Regions from separate parts of the Homo sapiens genome. Here region 2 is linked to region 1. A link means that fine-mapping ties the variant in region 1 to the expression of a gene that starts in the linked region. Tissue or cell type: pancreas. Region 1 holds a variant in brackets; the other region holds the start of a gene. All regions are shown on one strand. Distances are from middle to middle.

Region 1 (10,964 bases):
TGGACTCCCTGCCTCTAATCTGAAGACTTCCTTTCCCCCTCGCTGGAACCACTTGGCTCCTACTTGCAGGCTCTGCCCTTTCCATCCATAGGTGTAAGACAGACCTTGGCATTCTGGGGCAAGCTGGACTCGCATTCAGTACCAAGCCAGCCTTATCATGTAGCCTAGTACCTTCTAGCACCAGTTCCAATCACTGATTACTCTCTCTTGTTTGTCATTTTTAGGAAGCCCCCTAGTAACTTAATATCTCTAAGACAGATGGTTCATCTTGCTACTTCCAGTGAGTTCTCCTTTCCAGGTGCCAGGGTTCTCCCCTCAATTCAAGATTATGAACAGAAGGCTCTGCCACTCACCTTACTTGACTTCTAATAACCACTTGTTTCTAGATTCCTTATCCATGTCTTGCACACACCTACTGGAATACACCATCTTCTCTTTATGTGACACCACCTGTTTACTATGTCTCTTACCCAACCCTGTGTAGACACACTTGTCCTTCTAGGGTGAACTTAGTCGCGTCACATGTGTCATGGATCATACACTGCAAAGCTTCACACTGTGCCCCACCTCAAGCATCAGAGGTCCAGATCCAGCTTCTGCTTCCTCGAGTCTGCTAATTTCTACCTGAGTTACTGGATCTTGTCTGGTAAAGTACTAAGATCTGACACTGTTTGCTACTGCTTCTGTACTTTTCATTTACTGCCTCAGAAAAATAATGCTCTATCAAACTAATCAGATATTTATTCCCAAGTTGGGCTGTTTATTCTTCTCTTGAACAAAGTATATATCATGCACTTACTTCAGTCAGAACTGCACTCTACTAAATTTCTGAGCTCCTTTTTCTTTCCCTCTTATGCCAGAATCTGGAAGCTGGCCTAAATACTGCAAACCCTAAATAACATTTGGCCAATCCAACTGTGATAACCAAACAGTAATTAGACTCAAGCTGAAGGTCAGATATTCAGTTGACTAATGTTCTATAAGGACTCATTAAATGATTGTCTGGGAAAAGCCTTCCCACATTGTGTCACATGCCAAATTATGTATCTTGGCCTTGTGTATAGATTCTGTCACCTTTTCTTACAACACTTGATAAAGAGCTTCTAATTTTCAAAACATGGTGGATGATAACACTTTCACATATAACCATCAAAGAAGCAGATTCTTCCTGGGTCCAACAAGACTATCCCATCACTTTAAAAGCCTATTGGATTATTAAGGAAATAAAGATGAGAGGCAAATGTGGAGAATATTCTTTTCAGCATTCTTAACTAGATATTGCAAATTATTTAAACATCGCACATAATAAAATGATATAGCCAGATGATGAAATAACATACAGTTGTTGAAAGTGATGTATAGTTGAAATATATTTATTGACATGGAAGGAAATAAAATAGTGAAAAAGAAAAGTGATAAAACATTTTGTAAAATAGGACTCCATTTTGATAAAAATCGCATGTGCATGTGGATAAAAAAATTCAAAAAGGTCATACTCATTGAATATAATACCAAATGTTAATAGCTGTTATCTATGGGATCACTGATTACTTTTTTTCTCTTCTTTCATATCGTATTTTCTACTTTTTCTACTATGAACATGTATTAGTTATGTAATAATTGTATTTATTTATTTTAAAGACAGGGTCTCACTCTGCTGCCCAGGTTGGAGTGCGGTGGCAAGGTCATAGTTCACTGCAGCCTCGAGCTCCTGGGCTCAATCAATCCTCTTGCCCTCAGTCTCTTAAATAGGTTGCACTACAGGCATGTGCCTCCACGCCCAGTGAAATTTCTTTTTTTTGGTCAGTGGGGACCAGGGTCTTACTTTGTTGCCTAGGCTGGTCTCAAACTTCTAGCCTCAAGCAAAAAGTGCTGGGATTACAGGCATTAGCCCCCCGCAGCCAACCTTGTAATAATATTTTTAACTATTCCCTGAATTTGTGAACCGTAAAATGATCGCATGTACATGTGCTCTATGGATAGTAATAGTTGATGTCCTTAATTTTGGTCTCATCCTTAGTTATAATTGCATTGACTTCAGAATTGAGGGCTCATATGTTTAGAAAAACAAGAGGCAGATTGAATCTATAACATTTTATGAACCATTTACACTGAAAAATATTGTAAATGGCTTTTTCAAAAAAAGTCATACACTAAATTTTTAATAGTGGTTAGTTCTGATTAATATGATGTTGAGTGAGTTTTTTTTTTATTTTGCTTTGCTTTCCTTTTTTTTTCTTACTTTTCAAAACATGCTACCCTTAAAATGTGGTTTTAAAGGGGAAGATGATGAAAAGTTATTGATATCATCATCTCTTATTATTCCATCAGAGTCTGGGAATGCTGGAACAGAGTAACCCAGTATAACAAGCTCTGCAGACTGCCCTATTAGTGCAGGGGTACTCAACCACATACCACTAATGGCTCAGAGTGTAAGACTTTACTAAAAATGCAGCTACATCGTTAACCACTTGATTGCAGGGACCATGTCTTAAACAATTTGTGCTTGCCGAGTGCATTGCATAAAGTAGGGGCACAGTATATTTGTCAAAAGAAATAATGATCATAGGTGGGAGGGAAGATGATGAAGAGAAGTGAGTTAAAGGGTACCAACAAACAGAAAAATATAAGGAATAAATTCAATATTTGATAGCAGAGTAGGATGACTATACTTAAAAAATGTATTGTGCTAGGGCAATGGAACCTTTAAATACCCTGACTTGAACATTATGAATTATATTCATATGAAAATTTTCTCATGTACCCCATAATTTGCACAAATAAAAAAAAGGACCATGGTAGAAAAAAAGAAATAATAAAGATCGTAAGACACTTAGAAGTTATAGGGGATTGACAGTCATCTGGATCCAACTTTAACAAAAATCACTACATTCATAGTGTTTGACCTCGCAGCCTTCGATCATCCTTACTTAAATAAAGAGACATCCAGCCTCCTGCTGCTTGCCCAGTTCCTAGTTCCACATCAATCTGTCTTTGTCTCAAACATATCCAGAGTTTCCCCACCCCCGCCCCCGCCAGTTTTCCCCCACCCCCACCAATTTTCTGGCTATCAGAGAGGGCTCAGCTCTCTATTCTTGATATATGACTGTGGTCTACCCTACTCAGGGAGACCACATAAGCTTTTCCAAAAGATAGACCTCTTCCCAAGTTCTGGAACTTGACCTCAACAATGTATAGATAGAAATGATTACATAAACACCACAGATGCCCTGTTCTTCCTTCCTACCATAAATATTTTTAGAATCAGGTTATAATTAAATGTATATGTCATCCAGATAGACTAATAATATGGTGCCCCCACAAAACAACATTTTGCAAATATTTATCCAACATGTTTTAGTGCTAGCAGGATTAGTGCCATCAAGAAATAATTTTTATAGCACTGCCATTTGTTTTCTTAATTTCTCCTTGAGGGAACTTCCTATGTTAGCAGGAATAAGACTTGGAAGTCTTCTGAAAATAGTAACCGTATAAGCAAAAGAAACGTGATGAATCTTCTTGGCATCTTTTCTAAGAGGTCAGACTTCATGTACTCCATGAAAGAGGTACAATGGGTTTAAGGAAATAACATCCTGAAATAAAATGTCAAGAAAGGAAAGAAGCAAAATAAGAGGATTACAGAAAAAACAAATACTTGATAACACTTGTAATTCATGTTGAAAAAAGAAAAGATCTGAATTAACATTAGAAAACCCTGAGAACATGAGAGAGAGGACAAAACTGAGACATATTTTAAAGCACAGAGAATAATGATAAAGAAATAAAAACCAATAAGGACAGAGAAGAGAGAATCAAACTAAGAATTCTATTTTTCTCTCAGGAAGAGACCAAAACAACTGACAAAATTCAAACTTATAAATAAAGAAGTATCTAAATTTTGAAGATTCTTCGGGGTCACAGATGAAACAGTTCACTTCATTCCTGGGAAAATAAATCCATAATTAGACACTCCTGGGTAAATTTTTAACATTAAAATAATAAAGAAAACAATCATAAACTTTCAGGATAATGGGGTAGAGGGAGAAGGGAAAATTACAGATTAGCCTCACTTTTATAATGTTAAATTTAAAAAAAAAAATCTACAGCTTTTGAACAAAAACAAATTTTATAACCAACCAAGTTGTTTTCCTGAAGAAAAACACTAAAAAGACACAAATATGCATGAACTCAGAAAACATTTCACAAATATCTGTGTTAAAAATACTCATTGAATATACACTGGCCAAAAATGAGATAAATCAAAGTAATAAACATTAATATTAGAAAATTATATATTAAAAGACTGGCGAGTCGTTGCTGAAATTGAACTCCAAATTCAGGAACTTAATCGGATAATATGTGCTGAAACAGATTCTGCCTTCTGTGGATAAATTATGGTCCTGCTTTCCCTGAGTTTCTCTTTTATTCATTCATTGAACAAGTATGAAGCACCTCCTTTGTGCCAGGCCCTGTTGGCCCCTAGAGATACAGTGATAATACAGTAAATAAGATAGTTGTAACCTCTTCTTTAAGTCATTCTGCAGTCTAATTTTTTCAGTTCTGTCCCTTTTCTAGCAGAAATAATTATTGAGCCACATTCTTCACCCCCAATTTAGCAAGAATTTCTTCTCAAATATGAGGTCTTCTTAGAATAATAACAAGTGTTATAGTCCAGCATTTTAAGAACAACAATTAAATTATTTTATAGTTGGGACACTGTGCCAGAAGAATTATTTTACAAAAGGTCTTTTGTTTCCCCTCCACAAAAGCAGAATTGCGCAGAGCAACATAATAGCCATTTTTATTGCCAAGAAATTTAAATAATGATTTTTTCCCACTTTAAACATCACGTTTAATTGCCAGGTGCTGTGGCTCATGCCGGTAATCCCAACACTTTGAGAGGCCGAGGTGGCCAGATCACCTGAGGTCAGGAGTTTGAGACCAGCCTGGCCAACATGGTGAAACCATCTGTACTAAAAATACAAAAATTAGCCAGGTGTAGTGGCGAATACCCATAATCCCAGCTACTTGGGAGGCTGA[G/C]GCAGGAGAATTGCTTGAACCCGGGAGGTGGAGGTTGCAGTGAGCTGAGATCACACCATTGCACTCTAGCCTGGACAACAAGAGTGAAACTCTGTCTCAAAAAAAAAAAAAAAATCACACTTAATGAACAGAATCCCTTGGGCTCTGTAAGTGGAAAAAATGCAGATATTATTTGTCTCCATGCCCATTTTCACATTGCCTCACATTTAGGACTTGGGTTGTTTCTGTGTTGACTATACTTTAAAGTAAGCCCTTATAGCAAGTAAACACATGAAAATGGTAATGGATGTTATTAAAGGACTTAACTGAACTTGGCTTCATTGCCCCTTCATTTTAGGGTCCTTTCTCCTTTCAAAAAGATGTTGGTTCTAAGGCCTTGGATATTTTAACTCAATATTCTTTCTCTCTCCCAAGCTTGCTTTGCCAGTACTTCAGACCTAAGTAAGTGAAATTGAAATACCAGAATAGTACATTACAGAGTGTTCCAATACTTTTGTTTGTTTGTTTTTGTTTTTGTTTTTGAGACGGAGTCTCACTCTGTCACCCAGGCTGGAGTGTAGTGGGATCAGGTTGGCTCACTGCAGCCTCCATCTCCTGGGTTCAAGCAATTCTGCCTCAGCTTCCTGAGTAGCTGGGATTACAGGCGCCCACTACCACGCCCAGCTAATTTTTTTATGTTTTTAGTAGAGACGGGGTTTCACCATGTTCGCCAGGCTGGTCTTGAACTCTTGACCTCAGGTGATCCACCTGCCTCGGCCTCCTAAAGCGCTGGAATTAGAGGCGTGAGCCACCGTGCCCGGCCTCCTCCAATACTTAACATAAAATCAGTACTGCATAAAGGGAAGATTATTTTCAAAGTTTAATTCTATTTCACAAATCTCTTTTCCTCTTGGATTAATTAGACTGAACAAATATTTTTGTGTCAAAAGTTTAAATAAATAAAGTATGTCTAATCTACTCAATATGAAATATTCTTCTGCCATTAAAGATGATGTTTATACAGAACTTGCAACAATATGGAATCTCAGAAAATGGATTAGGTTGGTTGTGAGGGGAGCTATAATAGTCACGGTTTGGTCAGAGAAGCAAATCCACTAGGAAATATACATAAAATGCATTTACTATGGGAATTTTTCCCTACCCAGTTGTAGGATCTAGTTAAACAATCTATGTGACTCCTTTGTCTCTGTATCTAGTGCCTTAAGTCCACAGGGTGGGGCAGTTGGGAAAGAAAGATGGACACAAAGAGGAAAGAGCAAGGGCAAACAGGAACCTGCTGTCAGGCTAGGATATTCCCCTACTTGCAAGCTGAAAGATTCACCTTCTATTGTTTTATGAATGTTGGCAGAAGACATAAGACACCTGGATCACAGATGAAGTACTTTGTTACTCACAATACAGCAAATGGCATGAACATCATGCTTGTCATAGTCCCCTTTGCTCCCCAAGTCCCACAGGGGCTTTACAGAAAATCTCAGATGGATACTGCACATGCAGCATATCTGTATCACAGCTGAGAAACACTGAGTTTGGAGAATCCATTACTTCTGTAATAAGCAGTAAGTAGTTTGTTCTTTGTCACAGTGGGAGATACGTCATCTTCAGCATTCTTGCTATAAACACAACCTTGAGAAATGACCAAATAAAAGGAGGCTTAAATTCTTGGCACATTCAACAAGAACACAAAGGCATGCTCACAGCGCATGGTGGATTGCCTCTTCCAATACCTCTGAGGCTGAGCTGAAACTCATGAAAGATGGATTGGAACCTTCCCTTATTTCTCACCACTTCCAAGTCTCCAACTTTGATGATGGGTGTGTCCTGCAGGGAAGACCAGTGTTTTTTCATCATAAAGTGAAATACACGTCTGGTCCAGGAGTTGGGGAGGCTGAAGGAGAATAAAGCAGGAGCTGCAGTAGATGCAGGTCCAACTATGGTACAATACTGACCAGGTGAGCCTGGTCTGTTTACAGTTCCATTTAGGTTATAGTTCACAGTGTACAGAAAAACCTTTAGGCCGAACTTAACATACGTAAGGAGGCAGCTTTAGGCTAAACTTGATTTAACACTGGGAACTGAAGGAACAATAGAAACCACACTATCCATGTTGTTTTGGAGGGCTCAAAGAACACCTCCCAGTTCAGTGATACTCTAGGAAGCCTCAAAGGTCCTCGTATAAAGTCACAGTGAAGAGCTATTACAGCAAAAGGGCCTAAAGCAAAATCAGCAGAGGAAAAGTCCCATGGGGCAAAGTCCAGAGGAGGCCACACACAAGCTTCCAAGAGCCCTCTTCCAGTGGATTCCTATGGGACACACTTATTATCCCAGCAATAAGTTAAAGGAAGATCGTTAGAGATTCACTTCTCAAGATTTTTATTGGGGGCCGGTTGTGTAGGCACTCTCTGCTTAACATATATCAAAATTCCGAACTCCCAGAAGGAAAGCAAGAGTTCCACATAATTCATATTGTTTGAACAATTTACGCACAGTGAGCTTCTCTTATCAGTTCTGGTCATGATGAAAACCCTCTCGAAACCCGAATTTCCAGATGCCATCCAAAGGCCAATCTTTCAAGCAGGCATTTCTAAGACTAGCAGTCCCAAACCTGCTGTGTGAACTCTTTTTTTTACACACTTGTCTTCATATGACAACAATCGTGACTCCATTGAAACTCTTGCTTTGTTCTCTTTATATGAGTGTAGAAATATGTTCTTCTGTTTGTTTTTTAAAAACTCATAAAAACAAAACACCTTTTCCCATTTCCATTTTCTGTGGAAAGGATTTTCTTCTAAGCTCTCCTCTTAACCTCCCCTCTTCCCTTTATTTACACTGGCCCTAGAAAGGTGGAGTCAGTTGGGTTAACTGATTGCTAAATTTGGAAAGAATAACTGAGGGTGTTTGACTCAATTCACCCTTAGGATTGTCCTGGCTTCAGGGAACTCATGTTCCTCTGATATTCCAGGAGTCTGACCCTTCAAAGAGAGGCCTACTGTGCTAGTATTGCTGGCACACTCAATGTTAGCAATATTCAATGTTCAATCAATATTCAATATTAGCAACCCATATGGCAGACCAAGAGCCCTTATCCCAACAGTAAAGATAATTTTTGGACCTCCTCTGCCTTATTTTTTGTTTTAGTTTATTAACTTGATCAGAACCAAGTGGGGAGGGGTGTTTCTGTACATGGAGTCCCTTCAGAGGCTCCAACAAACAACAGGAAGAACTATTTTGAAAATGGTAAAACATTACTTATTAGAGTGGTATTTTTTTCTTTCTCTATATCCTCAATTTTCTAAAATATTATCCTATTACTTTCACAATTTTTAAAAATTATTTTTATAGCCAACTGAAAATTATATGCTCAAAAGTTCTTGCTGTCTTTAAAGTCAGAAAGGAGCTATAGCTGATTCTTACATAACGAAGTCATGGGGAGAACTACCTTTATACATACACACGGTTAAGTTGTGATTTATCTGAGGGCTTTGCAGAATCAACAACTGTGGAAAAGTCACAAGAATCACAGTGAAAATCTCTTAAATCATGATTGCATAAGATAAAGGATATATTTGCTCTAGATGGGTAACTCTGAATTATACAATGTTATGGATAAATGTATAATCTATACAGCAATGTCGAGTATATTTTAAAGAATAAGCATGCAAAATATAATGTTGTAGCTTCTCCAGCAGTTTGCACATTTGAAGTTGAAGCAGATTTTTCGATGTTTATGCCCACCTTAGTTGGCTTTCAATTCCTTTGTACCTCTCTTCAGCAGAAAATCTGAAAGTAAAAACTTTTGTAATTGGGTCACCTTTTTGGTTCAATTTTACAACCAAAAGCCTTTCCAACCTCTTACCTAATGCTTTTTTATTCAGCTTAGTATTTATTAGAGTTCTTAATGTCAAGATTTGATAAAGTTCTCTCTTTCAAGATGCCTATTTTTCTGAGCTTTGCAACAAATTGCTATTTATTCACATGACACCATGTTTCATGAAAAGTGTATTATCATTAAACATTATTAGAATCCGACACTTTGTGGTGGGATGCTCAGGCTATGAGAAGCAAGAGGGAATGGATGTCTCCACCCTCTCTCACTACAGGTAAAGAAATCTGAAGTGCAATGTTATACTAACTACCCAAATTTTCTCTCTCCAATATTTCTCTCGCTTTCTCTCTATCTCTGTCTCTTCATCTCTCTTCTATTCTCTCCCCCCGCCCCAATTACATTTGCATTGGCTAAAGTGTATGGTGCTATTTCCTTAATAGAGTTAGCAGTGGAAGAATTAAACTGCTTTCTTAGGCGGGGTGCAGTGGCTCATGCCTGTAATCCCAGCACTTTGGGAGGCCGAAGCCGGCAGATCACTTAAGGCCAGGAGTTTGAGACCAGCCTGGGCAACATGGTGAAACCCTGTATCTACTAAAAATACCAAAATTATCCAGGTATGGTGGTGCTTCTTACTAGGACTTTCATCCATATGTTTGGTATCACAACTATTTCATACTTTATTTTCTTATGCATTGACAGAATGAAACACAAGATGTGTATTGGTCAGAACTCATGGTTACTATTAGTTTCTTTTAAGATAGTTAAACTAGTTTACCTACCTTAAACAAGTTTCTTTCTTTGTGTCAAGGACACTTTCTTTGTGTCAAATACAGTGTCAAAGATGAAATTACCAGAATATGGGGATAATGAAGTCTAAACAAAAATAAGATAATTATTAAAACATGAAATGGATACCCTTCTCACCTTCCTCTTCACCAGATAATCAGGAAGGTGAATACAGTAAACACCTCTTTGATGGCTACCTATGGAGGTGGGTATCCAACAGCCATGACTGTTCTTAGTAACTTTACTGCACAGCTATAGCTTATTGATGCAGGAATGGTCAGCTAACACAAGCTGGACCACTCAAATACTGTCATTTCCAATATTTGAAATTTTGAACTGAAAGACAGAGACAGGGAATTGTTGGAATGGAGTTATAGTAATGGCAACACATAAGGGATGAAAAATTCATGTATTCCTGCTGCTAAGTTCCCAAAATATACTCAGCTGTTTTCCATCATACTCAAGATTTAGTTGTTATTTCCCCTAATTCTTTGAGATGAATCAGTGTTGGTTGTTCATCCAACAGTCATTTTCTTCCCTACCTCTTCCTTGATAACAGAAGCCCTAATTGGTCATTTGTCTAGGAGTCACTGGGCCCCTTCCCAGACCCAAGGCAGTGAAGTTAAAGCCAGGTATGAAGAGTCTCATTCTCCTTACCACTGATTGGTTTATGCACAGGTACGCTACAGAGCTTGGGATAAAGTCAACTTTGTATCACCCAAGCTTTTTATCATCCCCTTCCCCCCTTATCTGGATATCGTCATATCTGCACATGATTCCTGGAACACCTAGAGGCATCTTAAAGCCACAAGGAGAGACTCGCCAACAGGCTGTGGTTAGAGAGAACAGCTAGACAAAAGGTACCTGAGTCTCTGATTGAGCTACTGAATTAGCCAACTCTGGGACCTCTGGGCTTCTTGTTACTTGAGATAATGAAGGTCCATATTATTTAAGCCAGATGTAATTGTGTTTTTGTTTACTTTGGGGTTAAATAAAACCAAGTGATATATCCAATATACTCACGATCAATTTCTTTTTTATACAAAGTACCTGAGTTTATTTCTGCTACTTGCTACCAAAGACTATAAACCAGTAGATTGTGGAACTGTGTGTTCCAGGTTTTACCAGGCTGCATGAACAAATGAGGTCACCTTTACATTAGTACTCCAAACACTGATGCTCTCACCCCACACCTGCTTGAGTAGCAGAAAATTCCATGTTTTATTTATATGTTTCTCCTTAAAGGTTTTCAAAAATCTCATGGAAATTCTTAGACTTGCTAAAGATTTACTAGTTACTTGTTTGTTTTTCA
Region 2 (9,830 bases), 56 kb after region 1:
AGTGAGTTAAAGTGAGCAGGTGGCATTGGCCTCCCATGAGTTCACATTGAAGGTCAGAGGAGAGTATGCTCTTTTACCAAATTGTTCCATTGGGCATTCCATGAATAACACTTGAAAAGTTCTATCCCTTCCAAGACAAGGCTTGATTTCCCCACCTCACTGCAGTTTCACTCCATCATGCCAAACTCTTTTACACCCCTAAGTATTTATTTGCTGTTGTTACCTCTCTGTATGATGGCTTCCCTCCTTTGTCCCATACAAAGAATGCCAGCTAAGTAACCTCAATTTCCCCTTCTGTGAAACAAAAATAGTAATACCTATTTCCAAAACTGTGTTATGAGGACTAAATAATGCACACAAAAGACTTGGCAATGCATCTATTATATCAATAAATCTTAGATCCATTTCCCATTGCGCTCATGTTTAACAATACTTGGCACATAGTGAAAATGCAAAAGCCTCATGCATTCATGAATGCATGCATGGATGAAAAAGAGAACAGTTAAGAACTAGTGTCCCACCAGGCGCAGTGGCTCATGCCTGTAATCCCAGCACTTTGGGAGGCCGAGGCACACGGATCACTTGAGGTTAGGAGTTCGAGACTAGCCTGGCCAACATGGCGAAACTCCGTCTCTACTAAAAATACAAAAATTAGCCAGGCGTGGTGGCACATGCCTCTAATCCCAGCTACTCCGGAGGCTGAGGGAAGAGAATCAGTTGAACCCAGGAAGCAGAGGTTGCAGTGAGCTGAGATCACGCCACGGCACTCCAGCCTGGACAACAAAGCGAGACTCCATCTCGGGGGAGAAAAAAAAAAACCCAAAAAACTAGTGTCCAAAGAAATGAAGCCAGGAGTATAATTCCTTGCAATTAATCAATTGATGATATGTTTACATATTATGTAAACTAACTAAACTGAAAGACTGCGTCTAAGAAGCACTTAAAGCAAAGGTCTTAGGAGCCCTAATTTTTAAAAAACAGATGCATTTGTGAAATTTTAGAATAGTATGAAGGTTATATGAATAAAATGTATTTCAGGAATGAATCTATGCTGTAAAAGCACTGTTATATTTTTACCATTTTGAACTTCTAAGTCATTAAAAGAAGAAAGCCGGACTGCCTGCCTGTAACTAGCCTGATCACCTATGTAGGCCTTCCAAGGAGAACTGGATATTAGATAAGGAAATCAGGGTTTGCTGAATGCCAATGAATTGCTCAGTGGCTTGCAAAGCAGCCAAGTAGTTTTTGATCTAGTTCTTTCTCAGCAGCCAAAATGAACTTAAGAGTTAAACAGATAAGGAACCAAGAGAAATCACCAGGAGCAGCACAGGCCACGGGTAAACAGGTAACCCTGATCTAAGATCCCAAAAGTGAACATTAGCTCCAGAGAGACTTGACTTTAAAAAATGAATGGCATGAAAAGATGCAATCAATATCCAGTCAGCTCCTCTGGAAGGAGTTTCATCTCAAATTTATTTATTTACATTTATCCTGCTTGCTCGGCACAGGGCTTTTTTAAATTATTATAATAATTTTAAACCAACCGAAAATATTTCTGATCAAACCTTGTAACTTAAACATATACCATAGAGATAATTCTGATGTTCATGAGAACACTTGGACACAGAAAGGGGAACATCACACACCCACACCGGGGCCTATTGTGGGCGGGGGGGAGGGGGGAGGGATAGCATTAGGAGATACAGCTAATGTAAATATTGAGTTAATGGGTGCAGCACACCAACATGGCACCATGTATACATATGTAACAAACCTGCATGTTGTGCACACATACCCTAGAACTTAAAGTATAATAAAAATATATATATAATAAAAAATAAATAAAAAATAAACAAAAAAATTCTGATGTTCATGAAGCTTCTAATGAACAATTACGTAGCCTAGTTTTGCCTTCATGACATTCTTACTGCTCAGACGCCGCACCCAACTTTAATACTAAACTTTTTTTTTGAGACGTAGTCTCACTGTTGCCCAGGCTGGAGTGCAGCAGCGCGATCTCAGCTCACTGCAACCTCCGCCTCCCGGGTTCAAGTGATTCTCCTGCCTCAGCCTCCCGAGTAGCTGGGATTACAGTTGTGCACCACCATGCCCAGCTAATTTTTGTATTTTTAGAAGAGACGAGGTCTCACCATGTTGGTTAGGCTGGTCTCGAACTCCTGACCTCGTGATCCACGTGCCTCAGCCTCCCAAAGTGCTAGGATTACAGGCATGAGCCACCATGCCTGGCCAATACTAAATATTTTAACAAAATGTTTTACTTTCATGATTTCCAAAAATAGTAACAAAACTAGAACAAAATTTAACACTCTGTATCTTTTTTAAAACATTACTTGTAACTTTTATGATTAGTAAAAACTGTAGTTTTGATAGAAAACAGTCTTGGTGTTATATTGTCATAGGGCTCAGGTACATAATTTTATATGCAAACCACCATTCTCCTAGGTTTTCTATACACATGGCCTTTATGATACTAATCATTCTTTGAAATTATTAAAATTAATGTCCACAACTGGAAAATATGTTCGCTTATACTATTTGGGTAAACAGTCTACATAATGAAAAGGAATTGATGGACCCTCAGACATCACTGGGGAACTTACAAGAGATTCAAGAAACTGCTAAATGAGCAAAGATAGAGGGAATTATTATTCGATGCTTGTTAAATCTTCATGTACATCACCACACCAGCATATCAAGATAGGAAAAATATTACTCAGGAAAGTTAATTCCACATAAAAGTATCCTTTCTATGGAGAAGAACTTAAACCAAACTTTCCACTTGAAGTAATATGAGAATTGGTTTACTGTAACATTTAAGTGCAAAAGAGGAGGTAAGAATGGGATCACTGTGTAAGTTTCATAAAGTAATCAACTAATCTTAATCCTCCCATTTTCACTTGGAAAGGACCAAGAAACCTTTTTCAATTTTGATAAGTCAATCTGATAAAAAGTGAACTATAAATAAGAGACAGCATTGTTTTAGCAGTTAAAACACTTGTTTAAAAAAAACTATCTGGACTCTGACAAGCCGGTTAGATTGACAAGATCTGTGAAATCAGTTTTAGAGTTTTTAAGCCCTGGTATCTTATTCACAAAAGACTGTATAACATGGTCAATATTTAAAGACCTTAAACTATCTTCTCTTTCCTACATTTTTGATAAACATTAATAACAGTAAAGAAACCAGGCGCAGTGGGATTACAGTCCTGAGGCCGAGGCGGGAGGATCACTTGAGGCAAGGAGTTTGAGACCAGCCTGGCCAACATGGTGAAACCCCGCCTCTACTAAAAATACAAAATTAGCTGGGCATGGTGGGGCGCCTGTAATCCCAGCTACTTGGAAAGCTGAGACACGAGAATTGCTTGAACCCGGGAGGCAGAGGTTGTAGTGAGCGAGATCACTACGTCACTGGACTCCAGCCTGGGCGACAGAGTGAGACTCCGTCTCAAAAAAAAAGGAAAAAAAAAAAACAGTAAAGAAAGCCTGTAGTAGATTATCAATTTCTGAAACAGTCCCAAGGCAAATTCAATTGAGAACTCGTTCCACGAGTTCATTGCTTAAGAAAAACAGCGCTTGTGTTTAATCTTTTGGATTAAAAAAAAAATCAGAGCCTACGTCCTACAGTTTTAGTAAAACTGGGCTGAGCAACTGGAAAAAGCCAATGCTCAATCACAGTATTAAAATACAGAAAACTTTGCGGAAAAAAAATAAAGGAAGTCGGGGGGCGGGGTGGGGGGGGAATGCGTTCGCCTCACATGACCACGATGAGCTGTTCTTGCTCCGGTTCTAATTTGAGCTACTCTCTGGATTTTGGGGAAGGCCCACTTTTACACATTCACTCATGAAAAGGGAGCGCACACAAATCCGGCCACGTCACCAGCTGTTGCGCGCGAAGGCAGCTTGGCGGCGTCGGTGCTGGTTCCGGAGGGCGCTCAGCGGGAAGAACCGGGACACAGAAACGGGGGCAGGGAAGCAAAGGGGGAACAAGAAAAGTGGAAGCGATGTCCCCAAAGCAGGTTCCCTTTCCTCCTAAACTTTTTGGCTCTCAGACAAATCCTAAAAGTCCCTCGTCGCAGCATACAAAGTTGTGGGTAAATCCAGCGCAGTGGGGGGCGCACGGCCTTACCTGTGCCATGGCGACTACTCAGGTCAGGGGAAGGTGAAGCAGGACTGCAAAAGAGAAGAAACCTCGGGCTTAGCGCGCCATTTGCAACTCGTGCCCTCCCCAAGCGCAGGTCCGCGGGGACCCGGCGGCGCTCAGACAGCCCGGAGGGCCCCGCCACGGGGCCGACCCGCCCTCTCGCAGCTACCGGGACAGCTCTCGGCCGAGCGTCCGCGCGAATCCAGTGCCCCGCGACCACGCTCTCCTCTCCAGAAGGAGCCCCCTCCCCGGGCTGCGACCACTCACCCAGACTGTGGGACCCAAGTGCCCCGAAACCCCGGGAGAGCGGCGGAGAGCCGGGCGACGGTACGCGGGGCGACGCCGAGATGCAGACGCTGAAGGATCCGGCAGCTGCACCTAGACTGATCCAAGCAACGGAAACGCCAGCGGCCCCACCCCGGCCCTGCCCGGCTTGGCCCGTCCCACCCCCGCCAGGGCCCCAACCGCAGGCCGGCCGCGCCAGCCGGGCCCGCCCCTGCCCCGGCCTCAGCGCGCCTGCGTGGGTCGCGGCTCGTCCCAGTTGGTCTCCCGCGGCGCGGACTGTCCCGCTGGTCTCGCGGGCCTGGGTGGGGAGCGGCCGCAGAGCTGCTGGAACCAGGAGGAGGCGCCGCTCCCCCGAGGGCCCCGGAGACCTCTTGTCCTCGCGCCGCGGGAAGGGCCTGGGGAGCTGTCCAGGGCTCGGGGTTTTGGAGGTGCTTGAGCCTCCCTGCCCTCTGTGACCGCAGGAACCGTAGCCTCACTTGGGTGCTCAACATAGTGCGTGGGCGTCTTTTTGGAGGCGAGACAAAATCATCGCAGCTAAGGACAGCGCGCCTTTGTCGATGGGATAGAAAAAACGTGAAAGGAGGGCCGTTTCCCAAGTTGTTTTTGTTTCTGTTTTGTTTTGTTGTTTTGTTGTTGTTTTAATGCCTATTATTGCTTCCTAGATGGCCCTCTCTTAAATGTACAGCCTTCTAGTAGCGTATGTGGGCTATTTGAAAACCTCTGCTTCCAATCAGTTTCTGTTTTCAAAACTAGCCTAGAACTTTAATATGACTTAAATTTGAGCAATGCCTCATATTGGTTCAACATAAAATATATGAGTATATGAGAGAGAGGGGGAGGGAGGGAGAATCTACAGCGTATTGTACTAGCATGGTGCTGTGTTCTGTGAAAGGGCTTTATATGCAAAGCAGCCCCCAAACGCGAAGGAGTCAAGAAACCAAAGAACGAGACAGACAAATCCAGTCTGTAGGTAATAGGGGTGCTATTGGAGGATGTGGTAGACAGAAGCGTGGCCTTGGGCGGCGGCAAGCAGATAAATTTCTGCACTGTTACTCCCCAGACCCTGGCCTTATATACCGTAAGGAAAGAGTATACTGCTCTGTGCAAGACAATTAAAGGCAGCCCTCCGGAACAGGTGAGAATGCCGTATGCTTCATAGCCTACAATGTGGGCAATAGCATCAAGGTTGACATGTTCTTATGCTAAGGACAGTTTAAAAAAAAAATCCTAGGAATCAGGAGGTATTCATGGGACTGGGGTTATTAAAGGTCAACATGGCGGATTAGCATCCGGGATATAATCACTTTTGTCTCCATATGCTGGAAAAGGAAAAGTAGAAGACACAGGGACCTTCTCAGACTTACTGGTGTGGGGAGGGAAGGTGCCAGGGCAGAGGGGGCAAGAGGACAAGTTTGCGACACTAGATGCAGTGTTCTAGACATATGCTAGAATGGGAAGGGCAAAGTGCTTCTCAACGTGGAGGTTAAGGGTAAGAGATGAGGATCTAGTCTTCTTTGAGAATGAGGAAGAATAAATTAAATGGACAGCAAATGTGGTTCTTTGTATAGAACTTCTCATTCGCTTTCACGTGTGAACCACATGCCTATTCCAGCCCTGACAAAGTCACAACAGAGTGGTTGTTCTCTGGGAAAGGAGGCAAAATTGCAAAATTTGTGGAGCTTGCCAACCCCATCACCCCCACCCCACTGGCGGGTTGCCTTTCCTCTGGGAGCCTCCTCTCCACCAGCCCAGCTGTCTACTCAGCCTCAGGCTCTCCCCAAGTCAGCACCTCCCCCGGGTTTTCTTTACAGGTATTAATATATCTGAAGGCAGCCCTTTTCTGAGCATCTGTCTCCGTTGCTCCAGCTTTTCTACTTTCTCTCTGCCCTGCACCAAAAGCAGGACCTGTAGTCTTGCCTAGAGCATTCTTTTTTCTCACCCATATCCACTTGAACTCAGTTTGCTTCTCTCACTTTCTACTCTCACATTAATGGAGTTAAACAGGACCTCAGAGATCCTGTATTTAACAATCATTGATTTTACAGGGACATGAGACTCATCATGGGTTAGTGACTTGCTCTATGTCCTGCAGCTAAATACTGACAAAATCGATGAGTTATTGGACTCAGAGTCTTGAAATACTCCAGGTAGCATTTCTTTCACTTCCAGTAATATCAGTTTATTCAACTCCTACTCTGGACCAGGCACAGATCTAGGTGCTGGGGTAAACACGGCAAGTGAAACAAAGGCCTTGCCCTCATAGGTCATACATTCTGGTGGAGGAAACAAACAATAAACAAGTATCTAATATGTCCTGTGTGATGCGTGGTATAAAGAAAATAAAGGCTAGGGAATGGAAATGAAGGGAACACTTATTTTGCAAAGGTGATATGAAGCCATTTCTGAGAAGCCTTGAACAGAAACCTAAATTGATACAATTTAATTGTATTTGACAACTATACACTGAGCACCTGTGGAAAGGCCATACCTAAGAGTTTGCACCTTAATATTATAGATAAAGCATGTATATGAACACTACAATGAGAGACTATAAATCAGGAAAGAAATGCCTAGAATGCAATCAAAATGCAATTAGTTTCAGAGGAAGGAGCTAATATTTTGTCAGATGGTTGACATAGCATTTGGATTAGGCTTTTGAGAGAGGATATTTTATCAAACTATGAAGGGGAGAAAGGGTGGTCTGGTTAAGTGAACTGCAAAACCAAGAGAAGGAAAGTATCTCTTTGTGTCTGTGTGATTTGAACTGTCTAAAATGGCTGGAGTGGAAGGTACAATATTAGAGTTGAGAGATGTAGAAACTAAAACACAAAGAAGCTCAGCGACTTATTTAGAATAAAGAGAGATTGCCACATAAAGATTCTGCTTTGAATTGTGTATTTAATTGATGGATTTTGAACAACTGATGTTCTTAACTACTGAGTGATATAAATGATAGGCACTCAGGAAATCTCTTTCACTACCTCTTGTCAGCCTAATAACAAACAGAGAGGGAGACTTTCTAAAAGAAAATGATGTTTATTTGGGAATGGGCATTGCAATGGGAATATGTGTGCCATATTAAACTATTTTGCGTATTCAGGGAGGTAAAGGAAGGCAAAGGTTTTTCAAGGAAGAAGGAAGATTACATCATTGTTTTTGAGATAATTATCCTTGGCTACAGTAATCAATAACTAGAGTGGCACCAGTCTAATGTTGTACAGGCAGTTGCTGGGCAGATGTCTCCGCAGAAGTTCTCATTTTCTCTCTCTCTCTCTCTCTCTCTCTCTCTCTCTCTGTGTGTGTGTGTGTGTGTGTGTGTGTGTGTGTGTGTGGTTGCAATGGCCTTTGTCCAAAGTTGTGGTTTTTGCAGTATTTTTCAATAGTTCTTGTTATCAGGCATTTATGTATTAGAACCCTCCCTTCATGGCCTTCCCCAGCCATTTGTCAGGGATTTGTCTCGTTTTTTAACACAATTGACTCCATTTTGATAAGGACAGCTTTCACACTCTTAAAAACAAGTGTCTGTCATTCATCCCCCAATGGCCTTTATCAGTGTCCAAATGTCATCTTTAGAATCTCTGCCGGATTCGCCAGTTAAGTCTTTCATCTTTCTAATTAAATTTTCTCTTCTTACACATTTAAAAATTAAAGTCCTTCTTTCTCAGTGTATTGTCTTTGTGTTGTGTTCATTATAAGTACTACATAATAATTGTGGGGAGTTTTTTATACTATTCTTAGATATAAATAATGAGTTTCAGCTGTTTTCTATGAGACACTCAGGTCACATCAATTTTCTTTTTATTAGAGAAATATACCAAATGCCAGAGAACTAATTTACAAACACACTTTTGAAACTGTATTTATTTGTTAACTCAGGATTTTCCCTATTTCTCTCAATTATTTGGATCATTCAGGAACTAGCCAATTTATTCTAAATAAGTCGCTGAGCTTCTTTGTGTTTCAGTTTCTACATCTCTCAACTCTAATATTTTGATCATATATTCATGGCCCTACTGTTTCCCTTGATTATAATGACACATAAAGAAAAGAAAATGAGTTACAGGCTTTTTATAAATAAGTACAAAACAACTCTTCTTTAGTTTTAGAGGAATTGGAATCTTGTTTTTTAGAAAATTATAACATTTTCAACCAGTCTACTTTAAAAATTGATTTTGTTTAATAAATATATCTATTGCAAATTATGGCAAGTTAAAGAAGAAGAAAAGATGGCAGGAGAATGAATTGCATGAAGCAGAAGAAACGAGAGAGTGGCTGAGGAGTAAAGTAGGGGCTAGATACAAAGGGAAAGGAGGAACATCATGTCTTCCAGGCAAGATCTGGAAAAAGCACACTCTCTGAAGACAGAGACAGTTGAGTTCAAATCCCTACTCTGCCTGCATACCAGGGATGTGACTTGGACAAATTATGTGATTTCTCTGATCCTTGGCTTCCTTATCTAGAGTGGAGGCTAGTTTCAAATAAGTTAATTTGTGAAACTGCCTAACAAATTGTGAAAAAGGGTTGATTCCATTCCCCCATGGCTCTTTTTTCTTTCAGAAACACTAACCATCATTCTCAGTTCCTGTTCTGATGATTAAGGACCCACCTTCATATTAAAAGCAAAAATAACCTCCTCTGGACCCACTGCTCCACTGCAGCAGGACCTATTGCCAGCCAGTCTCTCAGAGACGGCAGGTCCAACTCTTGGGGGCCAACCTGATGCTTCCTGGTGCCATTCCCCCTTCTTCCCGCCTATTCTGCCTCATCCAGAGTCTACCATCGATGGCCCCTATCAACATACAACTAGCCTAGACCCCCACCCTCTACCCTTCTCTCCACACGTGGGCCCTCTGATCCCCATCTGCTGGTGCCAACAACTGTAAAACCGTCACCTGGAATTTAATTCAAGTCACCTATCTGCCCTCAACTCATTCATGTCTTAAAGTCCCAGGGTGAGATTAGAGGTGGGGCTGCCTTCCTCAGTGGGCTCTGTCAAGTCTTTTTCCACCATCATCTCTACATCCCAGCAGTGATACTGGAATGTAGCTTTATTCTAGTGGCTCCCCATTCTTGCTCTTTAGGTTTAAAGTGGTTGTAGTGTCTCTGGAGAAAATAGGTCTCTCAGTGTGTTCAGGCTGCCATAACAAAATTGCATGAAGTGAGTAGCTTATAAACAACAGAAATGTGTTTATCACAGTCTGAAGCCTGGAAAGTGCAAGAACAAGGTTCCACAGATTTGGGGTCAGGTGAGGGCTTGCTTCCTCATAGACAGCCATCTTTACTGTAACCTCACATGGCAGAAGAGACTAGCTAGCTCTCTGGGGTCTCTTTTTTAAAGGCACTCTTAGTCCCTTTTCTGTTGCAATAAAAATACCACACACTG

The links. PIP is the estimated chance that this variant, and not a neighbour inherited with it, causes the effect. A credible set is the group of variants that fine-mapping cannot tell apart.
Region 2: ANXA5 starts here. The variant in region 1 is the best candidate, but not a certain one, in a credible set for the expression of ANXA5 in pancreas (GTEx, PIP 0.52).

The regions. Positions count from the first base shown.
Region 1 is chr4:121,635,799-121,646,762 of GRCh38, forward strand. It overlaps LOC105377402 (a long non-coding RNA gene), which reads right to left. Exons shown (of 3, transcript XR_939167.3): 3 at 7,397-8,820. Among named protein-coding and RNA genes, the nearest start is that of ANXA5, 56 kb to the right of the region's middle. The variant G/C (reference allele first, on the strand shown) is at 5,041.
Region 2 is chr4:121,692,434-121,702,263 of GRCh38, forward strand. It overlaps ANXA5 (annexin A5), which reads right to left and starts at 4,547. Exons shown (of 13, transcript NM_001154.4): 1 at 4,430-4,547; 2 at 4,148-4,191. The coding sequence starts at 4,156. RefSeq lists a silencer at 4,496-4,915.